Linked DNA regions of Homo sapiens. The protein of the gene in region 2 interacts with the protein of the main gene of each other region in a biochemical or structural test. Each region holds a gene or a part of one and is shown on either strand. Other genes may lie near its edges.

What was found.
Region 1: of the proteins of HMGN1 (region 2) and PRKACG, one has a biochemical effect on the other in vitro, tested with the Homo sapiens proteins (one study listed by BioGRID).

Annotation. Positions count from the first base shown.
Region 1 is NC_000009.12:69,011,669-69,015,885, forward strand, and holds PRKACG (cAMP-dependent protein kinase catalytic subunit gamma), read right to left. Parts: upstream 2,446-4,217; 5' UTR 2,425-2,445; coding exon 1,369-2,424; 3' UTR 836-1,368; downstream 1-835. UniProt on the Homo sapiens protein: Phosphorylates a large number of substrates in the cytoplasm and the nucleus.
Region 2 is NC_000021.9:39,345,868-39,350,830, forward strand, and holds the start of HMGN1 (non-histone chromosomal protein HMG-14), read right to left. Parts: upstream 3,222-4,963; 5' UTR 3,051-3,221; coding exon 3,036-3,050; intron 2,739-3,035; exon of another isoform or gene 2,711-2,738; coding exon 2,678-2,710; intron 2,587-2,677; exon of another isoform or gene 2,585-2,586; coding exon 2,555-2,584; intron 2,473-2,554; coding exon 2,425-2,472; intron 2,076-2,424; exon of another isoform or gene 1,512-2,075; intron 1,426-1,511; exon of another isoform or gene 1-1,425. UniProt on the Homo sapiens protein: Binds to the inner side of the nucleosomal DNA thus altering the interaction between the DNA and the histone octamer. May be involved in the process which maintains transcribable genes in a unique chromatin conformation.

The DNA.
Region 1 (4,217 bases), on a different chromosome or scaffold from region 2:
TGTGGCAAAACCTCGTCTCTACTAAAAATACAATAATTAGCCGGGGATGGTAGTGGGCCCCTGTAATCCCAGCTACTCGGGAGGCTGAGGCAGGAGAGTCGCTTGAACCCGGGAGGCGGAGGTTGCAGTGAGCTGAGATTGTACCACTGCACTCCAGCCTGGGTGACAGAGTGAGACTTCATGTCAAAAAAAAAAAAAAATTGAAAACAGCACGGGGTGGCAGGGGAGAAGAGGTGAAGGATGGCTGACAGCTAAGCTGGAGAGGGGCACCCAGGATGGGAGAAGGCAGAAGCTGCTGGGTGAATAAAACAGGCAGCCCCTCCCCAGCAACCCTAGCCTTGAACCCTGGGCGATGAGGTGGGGGTGGAGGGGCTGGGCCTCTTCCATGTCCTTTTGCAGGACTGCCTTCCCATAAGGAGAGGCTGGGCATCACAATCTGGCTGAGAATAAAATTAAGGAGTTTCGGGGAAATGCTGCTGTGAAGAAAGACTTGGGCTTGGAACTCCCACTCTGTCTTTTTGGGGGACAACTCCTCTTTGGCAGGGAGTAGGGCAGCTGCTTTTCTGGCTCCCAAAGCCCAAGGGTGAAGAAAAGTCTGCTGGGGAAGAAGAGAGTGGAGCTTCCTAAAAGAACTGAGACCTTTGCAAGAGTGATAGAGGATGCCCCTGGGGAGGGGGGAGGGGGAAATCAGCAGTTCATGGGGGAAGTTCAAACCCCAGAGCCTCCTTCCAAAGTCAGTCGGCTTCCTGGATTTGTTAAAATGGAATGGGGAGACACGGTAAGGTGGGAAGGGTGGGAGGGGTGGAAGTAGAGGAAGGAGGAAAGGGGACACTGGTGGAACTTAAATAAGATTTTAATTGTTTTTTGTTTTAATTTTTTATTCTAGCAAACAGCCCACTGAACATGGCACTAAACCTCTCTCCTTCCCAGGCAGGATTACGCCAAAGGGTAGGTGTGCTTTTCATTCATCCTCTCTTAGTAAGTGGTGCCTGTTCAGGGCTGGAGTTAAGTTTGAGCCCCTCTTTCCACACCGTGTCCCTTGATACAACAGCAAGACCTGGCCTGAATAGAGCTGAGAAACTCGTTTAAAACAGGCAGAAGGGGGCTGGGGCAAGGGGGACCCTGTGGGAGGAGAAAGAGAGAAGCACAGAGGGACCAGGAAGGCATGGGGGGGGGTGAGGGAGCAGCTGGTGTTTCTGTTCCTCCAAATATCTGGGCTTCCTGCTCCCCCAACCCTGGAGGGTGGGGTGAGGATGAAATTAGATACAAGGAACTCTGGGGCCCTCTGGCTGTTCAATCCAACCCTCCCATCCCCCAAACCACCAAAAACAAAAAGGAAAGAAAACCCACAGGGGCACAAGCACACCCCTAAAACTCAGAAAACTCCTTGGCACACTTCTCATTGATGGAGATCCGGAGCTCTTCCTCCTCGTAGTCGTCAAAGTTACTGGCATCCCCAGGGCCTGTGTACTTCGGGATGAAGGGAGCTTCCACCTTCTTCTCATAGATGGCGATCCAGCTGGTTGTGGCGAACCACTTGTGGTTCTTGATGTCGCCAACCCCGTTCCTGAGGTTTCCGAAGCGCTTGGTGAGGTCCACCTGCAGCAGGCTCCGCAGCAGATGCTTGAGGTCAGAGCTGAGTTTGGAGGGAAACCGCACCCTCCCAGAGACGATCTTCTCGTAGATCTGGATGGGCTGGTCGGCGTAGAAGGGTGGGAAGCCCACGGCCATCTCATAGATGAGCACCCCTAGGGCCCACCAGTCCACGGCCTTGTTGTAGCCTTTGCTCAGGATGATCTCGGGGGCCAGGTACTCTGGGGTCCCGCACAAGGTCCAAGTGCGGCCCTTCACGCGCTTGGCGAAACCGAAGTCCGTCACCTGCAGGTAGCCCTGCTGGTCGATGAGGAGATTCTCGGGCTTCAGGTCGCGGTGGATGAGGTCGAGCGAGTGTAGGTACTGGACGGCCAGGACGACCTGGGCGGCATAGAAACAGGCATGGGGCTCGCTAAACCTTCCGACGCGCTGTAGGCGGGAGAACATCTCCCCACCCGGCACGTACTCCATCACCAGGTACAGGTAGGAGTTGTCCTTAAAGGAGAACTGGAGCTTGACGAGGAACGGAAAGTCGATCGCCTGCAGGATGCGCTTCTCGTTCAGTATGTGCTCGACCTGCTTCATCTTCACCACCTTCTGCTTGTTGAGGATCTTCATGGCGTAGTGGCCGCCGGTCTCCTGGTGCCTCACCAGCATCACCCGCCCGAAGGAGCCCATGCCCAGCGTCCTGAGCCGTTCGAACTGATCCGAGCTGGCGGTGTTTTGAGCGGGGTTTCCCCATCTGTAGAGGAAATCTCCTCTGGCTTTGGCTAGGAACTCGTTCACGCTCTCCTCCTGCTCGGTGTCCTTCTTGGCGGGGGCGTTGCCCATGGCGGTGGCGGCGGCAGGGGCGGGGGTCTCGCGGCGGCGGCGGCGGCGGCGGCAGCGGCGGAGATGGCGCCCCCTGGGGCTGGCTGCGCTGGCTGCGGCGCTGCGACCCCCGCCCGGCCTCCGCTTATATTCCCAGCTACATGGGAGGCTGAGATGGGAGGATTTCTTGAGCCTGGGAGGTCAAGGCTTCAGTGAGCCAAGATCACGCCGCTGCACTCAACAATATGGATAAATCCAAAAGGCATTATGCAAGTGAGAGAAGCCAACTCTAAAGGAGACTTACTGTATGAATCCATTTCTATGACATTCCAGAAAAGGCAAAACTATAGTGTGAGAGAACAGATCAGTGATTGCCAGGGCTTGGGGTTAGGGGACGGTTGGACTATGAAGGGACAGCCTGAGGGAATGTGGGAAGTGGTGGGACATGTTTGTATCCTGATTGTGCTGGTGGTTACAATGTATTGGGTGGTGGTCTACATTTGTTTTAAAACTCATAGAACTGGCCGGGCGCAGTGGCTAAAGCCTGTAATCCCAACACTTTGGGAGGCCGAGGCGGGCGGATCACAAGGTCAGGAGTTCGAAACCAGCCTGACCACCATAGTGAAACCCCGTCTCTACTAAAAATACAAAAAAATTAGCCAGGCGTGGTGGCGCATGCCTGTAATCCCAGCTACTCGGGAGGCTGAGGCAGGAGAATTGCTTGAACCTGGGAGGCAGAGGTTGCAGTGAGCAGAGATCGTGCCACTGCACACCAGCCTGGGCAATAAGAGTGAAACTCCATCTCAAAAACAAACAAACAAACAAACAAACACCTCAAAGAACTGTATACTTCCCCCCAAAATTCAGTTTTACTGCATGTAATGTTTTATTTTAACACATACATATGATTTCCTTTCTTCTGTTTGCTTTGGGTTTAATTGCTCTTATTTCCTAAGGTGGGAACTAAGGTCACTGATTTGAAATCTTTCTTCTATTACAATCACTTAGTGCTATAAATTTCCTCCTAAGTATTATTTTTTGCAGCATCCCACAAATTTTGGTATGTTGTATTTTCCTTTTCATCCAGCTCAAAATATTTTCTAAGCTCCCTTTTCATCTTCTTTGACAGATAAGCTATTTAAAAGTATATTATTTCGTTTCCAAATACTTGGGGATTTTTCAAGAATTTTCCTATTGATTTCTGATTTAATTCCATTGTTAGAAAACATACTCTGTGTGACCTAAAATGTTTTACACTTCTTGGGGCTCATTTTATGGCCCAGAATATGATCTATCTTGGTAGATGGCCCATATGCACTTGAGAAGAATGTATATTCTGGTGTATTCTGCTGTTTGAGGATACAGTGTTCTACAAATGTCACTTAGGTCAAGTTGGCTAGTAGTAGTGTTCAGGTCTTCTATATTCTTATTGACTTTCTGTTTACTTATTCTATCAATTATTAAAAACATGCCACAGGAGTTTATGAGAAGTCAAAGTACATAGATGATGGGCCTTCCATCACTCCCCCAGGCCACCATGTCAGCCGCCCCACACACCCTCCAGAAGACTGCCAGCACTCAGCCATCACAGGGTGGGTTCTGAGCTGCTCTCCCCAGTCAATTCTGTACAAAGATTCTGTCCTACATCATAAACACTGAGCTACAGGAATACCCATTTATCCTCCTATTTTCTCTCCATCTTGCCCTTTAAGTTTGACAGCTAATTCTGCCTACCCACCCTGGCTACACCGCCTGTAGCTAGTGCAAGTAAACAACACACTTTCACCTAGCCCTGCAGGCTGAAACCAAGCAAA
Region 2 (4,963 bases):
TCCTGCTACAGTTAATCCCTTCATATCATATAATGAGGAACTAAAAGGATCAGTTTTGAATTTATCACTTTCATTTAGGTGTTTGAAGAATCTGAAAAGCACAGGTATTAATATGACCATACTAACTTGATACATTAAGTTCAAAATTTAAGCCATGTTAAAGAAACATAAAAATACTTTTAGATACCATCCATCAATACTGAGAAGAAAGCTTAACATTTATTCCTTGTTAGTAAGTATACAGCAGCAGCTAAATTAGTTTAGCCCCCAGCGGGTGGTATAAAAGACCCATACGGATACTGACCAATTACTTGAATTAAAGGGCCATAAAGACAAGCAAGTAGAGCTCACAACTTCAATGCTAACACGGGCGGAAAAATCACTGCAGGGTGTTCTGTACTAATAGTAGGATTCCACAGACAGCATAATGACTTTTAATACTTCAACATCCTTTGAGTAACAAATGATAAATGTATTTGAGACAAAACTGCTACTACACACATTGCTATCACAAAGTTTCACAATCACTTCTGTATTTAAGAACTACTCTTTTGTAGTCTGTTTCTAAAGATTTCTCATTAATTTCATAATCATTCCAATACAAAAAATACAAAACTGGGAAACAGTTAAAATAGAATACATAATATCTTGGACTTGAAATAATACCACGTGTAACCATTATCAGCTGAAAAGCTAGATTAAAAAAAAATCAATCAAGTTTCCCAAAGTATAATGTTTGGACCTTCAAAATATTTAGTTCTAGGGAAAGATACAAGTCAGAAGCACACACAGTGACAAGATATGCCTTGAAAACATGTCTACTGTGTAGTATGATAATCGATACACCAAGTGCTTACGTTCTGTTTAGACTTCAAAGTCTGATCAACCATGAAGTCAAAGGTGTATTACAGAAACGAGATGTAAAAATGAACAAATCCCTTCTGCCCTTTTTCCTTTTGGGAAAACTGACCTCATAGGCTCGTTCCTCAACAAACACTGACATGAAGACTTACCTGTTGGCCTCTCAATTACATCTGATGTCCCAAACCCACTGAGAGTAAAACTTGGAACTGTTTTCATTAAAAAATTCACTTTACAGTAGATCTCAAGATGGACAAAGATAAATAAGGAAAGAAACAAGAAAAATGTAAAGAGGGAAACAGGCAGATATTTCAGCCAATTAGTTTAAAACACACACACACACACACACACAATAAAAAAAGATAGGTAATAATATACTGCTCACGCCAACATTTTTAACAAGGTCAGCTAATTTTTTAGGCCTTCAAGTTTCCGTGCTGTTCTAACTGTATACAGAGAATTACCACATGGTCTTCTGGTAATGAGAAATTTAAAGTTGAAAAATACTATTCTCATACCTTCCGTGAAGCTTTATTTTTAAAAGGATCACAAAAACAGAACTTTCTGTTAAAGAAAACATAGTTAACATTTTTACACTCAGCTCTGTAAAAAATTTAAATTAAAAAAGAAAAAACATCTTTGTTTTATACCTTTATTTAACAAGGACAAATTTAGTAATTATCCAACAACTCCTCAATGTCAAGGAAATTAATCTTGCCTCTTCTGATGACTGCAGTGCTAAACTTCTACCTACACTTTTAGGAAAGAGGTGAAGGCATTAACAAAAATTTTTTTTGAGACTTCAAATAGCAAACTCTCACCTAAGTTTTGGATAAAAATTAATCACCCCGCGAAGAACATGTAGAGCTTTACAGGTTTCAATGCTATATCCAAACACAAAGCTTATACTTGTTTTACACATGTTCTGCTTTTCCACCCTGCAAGTTATCAAACACACGTACACCCAAAGCCAACTTCATTCTACAGACCTGCAATTCGAATCATGCAATCACGAATTTGTTAGGGAGCAGCCAAAATCACGGTTTTGTATAACTGCTGATGAACACTTCCAGAGTAGTGGCGGTTATTTTCTCAGAGATCACAACTTTTTACCTCCCCACCCCCACCCCGTAAAAAGGTTAAGGCTTCCCGAAGTTGGCTTGGAAACTGTATATATAAAAACTTACACGTTCCCTTTCTCCTGGCCTCGGTGCTATCTTGACTCTTTTATTGTCAAAAAAGGAAGTACAAGCACGAATTAAAAGCCAAGCACCAGCCACAATGTACGCAACGCAAAGAATAAATTTCCTTTGTAGACTTAATATTTAATATTTTTTGTCGTCCTAAGTCTCCTAACATCTGCAGCAGCATTAGTGTGATATAGTTCTATAAACCAGGATGAATATATCCATTACATTTTTGCCTCGACCACTAGAAAAATTATTTACCGTAATTATTAAAGTATAAATAAAGCTCCAATAGCTAATCAAAATGGAAGCCCCGCATTAAGAAGCAGTGTAGCCTAAGGCCCCGCTGCATCCCAATGCGCGTTTCGAGGCTTACCTTCGCTGCTGCCTTTTTCGGCTTCGCTTCCACTTTTGCAGGAGGTTTCTGAAAGGCAAAAGCAGCACTGAGCGTCCTCACCCGGGACGACCCGCGGAAAACGAACGGTTACGGGGCTCGCTTTACTTACAGCTGACAACCGCGCCGATCTCCTCTTGGGCTTGGAGAAAGAAAAAGGAGAGTCAGCGAGAAGAGAAGGCAGGCCAGCGGCTCACGGGAAACCCACCACCCCCCGCAGAAGGCCCGCACTCACCTCTTCCTTGGCGGCGCCTTCGGCGGAGCTGACCTGCGGAGACGGAGACGCACGAATAGAGGCGGGCCGCAGTCCCAGGACTCGCGGGCCCGCCCGGCCCCGAGAACAATGCCCGGCCGCGTGACGTCACGGCTTCCCGCCGCCCCGTTCGAATAGCCCCCTCAGCTCCCCCGGCCGCCAAACGTTCCAGAACGCCCGCCCCCGCGGCCGCCGAGCGCTCGCCTGCCCGCCCGCCGGTCTCCAAGCGCCTCCCGGGCCCGTCGCCACCGTGGGTGCAACGGGGCCTGGGCCTCGCGGGGCCCGGCGGGGCGCCGGCGGCGGCTCCAGGGGGCGTGTGCGGGCCGCGGCCGCCGCTCACCTTCCTCTTGGGCATCGTGGCGGCGGGGAAGGCGCGTGCCGGGTGCCTGCGGGGAAGGCGCGTGCCGGGTGCCTGCGGGCCGCGGCGCGCCGACAGCCTTCGCGAAACTGGGCTGCCTTGCCGCTGCCACTCCTCCCGCCGCCCGAGCTGCTGAGACCCACAGCGGGGGCGGTGGGAGAACCGGATGGAACCGGATTGGGAGCCCGCCTCCTCCTCCCCCCGCGTCCCCGGCCGCGGGCTCCCCCTCCCCGCCGGCCGGGCCGCCCCCCACCCCCGCCCATTGGCTACGGGACTCAGCCCGCGCCCGGAATAGGTGAGGCGGGCCCTTAATTGATCCCGGACCCCGCCCCCTTCCGGGGGCCCCCCCCCCCCCCCCGGGCGCCCCCACCCCTTTCCGCCGTCTCGCGGGGCCCCAGACCCAGGCGAAGGGGGCGGGGTCCCAGTGGCGCTCCGGCCTCACGGTAGTTTGAAGCCGAGCCGCAAAGTGCGGTCTGCGCGCTGATTGGCGGACGCACGTCACGGGACCGCGGGTCCCCACCCACAATTCTTCTGGATACCTGGGCGCCTTCAGGCCACTGGTATCTGGCCCCTCCCCTCCGGGGTGAATTGGGTTCGAACATTTATAGTTCGTATCTTAGACTGGGAAGGGAGAAGGATAAGGTATACAGGAAGTAGCAAATTTCTCCCGCCTCTGTCGGCAAGAAAGGCTATCCAGGGGCTCCAGCTTCGCAGGCCTGCGTGAAGCGGGCCCTGGTGCGCAGGCGCTGCAGGAGGGCGTGGGAAGGAGAGCCGACGCGGCCTTTCTGTGTAACTTCCTTCCTTCCTTCCTTTTATTTGAGACAGGGTCTCGTTGTGTCGTCCAGGCTGGAGTGCAGTGGTGCGATCACGGCTCATTGCAGCCTCGACCCCTTCGGCTCCAGCGAACCTCCCACTCCGGCCTCCCGAGTAGCTGGGACCACAGGGCACCATTTTGCCCAGCTAACTTTTGTATTTTTTGTAGAGAGGGGGTTTCACTATGTTGCACAGCATGGTCTCCGACTCCTGGGCTCAAGCGATCCTCCCGCCTCGGCCTCCCAAAGTGCTGGGGATCCAAGCTGTGGAACTTTCTTCAGATTTCCCTGGAGGACTGCAGGTGCACGAGGGTCGTTTCTGGGCCCAGAGTAGGGCAGCTCTCAGATTGCAGCTCCTGAGAGCCGTGCGCGACCGTCTCCAGCACTCGCGGACCCCCAGAGGGCTGTTTTTTTTTCTCCATAGCATTGATTGAATATATATCCTTATACATTCCATATATATCTCAGGAAGAATACACAAGGAAGTGGTACCAGCGGTTGCCTCTGGGGAAAAGTGGGAAGATTGAGGGTAAAATTTCCCTTTTCTCGTGTGTAATTTTTTTTCACTTTCCTATCTGCATGGATTACCTTAAAAAAATTCAACATCAGAGAGTACCCAAGTTTGTGGCACAAGCATGTACTGAGCACCTGCCCTGTGGCAGGCACCGTGAAGTCCCTGGGGTAGAGAGAATCCAGGTTTGTATCCCAAGCACTGGGTCTAGTAATTTAGTGGGGAGAGAAAGTACCCAATTGGCCTAGTAAAGAAAGGGGAAGCCATCGGCAGGGGGGGTCAGCATATTTCAAGGCATGCTGACTTGCTAGAGTGTGGCAGCCCACCAAGACCTTTAAAGTGGCAGGGATGGAGATACGAAAAATGGACGTAAAGATCAGGGAAAAGAGGCAGAAAAAAAGAAGAGCAGCCCGTCATGAAGTTCGATCATTATCCAAAGATTGAGGGATACTGCAAGGTCTTAAGCAAGCGAACTCTATGCTTTTGGACTTACCTCATAAAGAACTTTCTCCCATAAGAACCGAAGATGCGCTAGGCCAGAGGTGACAACTGATGGTCCACAGATGTTTTATTTGGCCTAGTTTTTT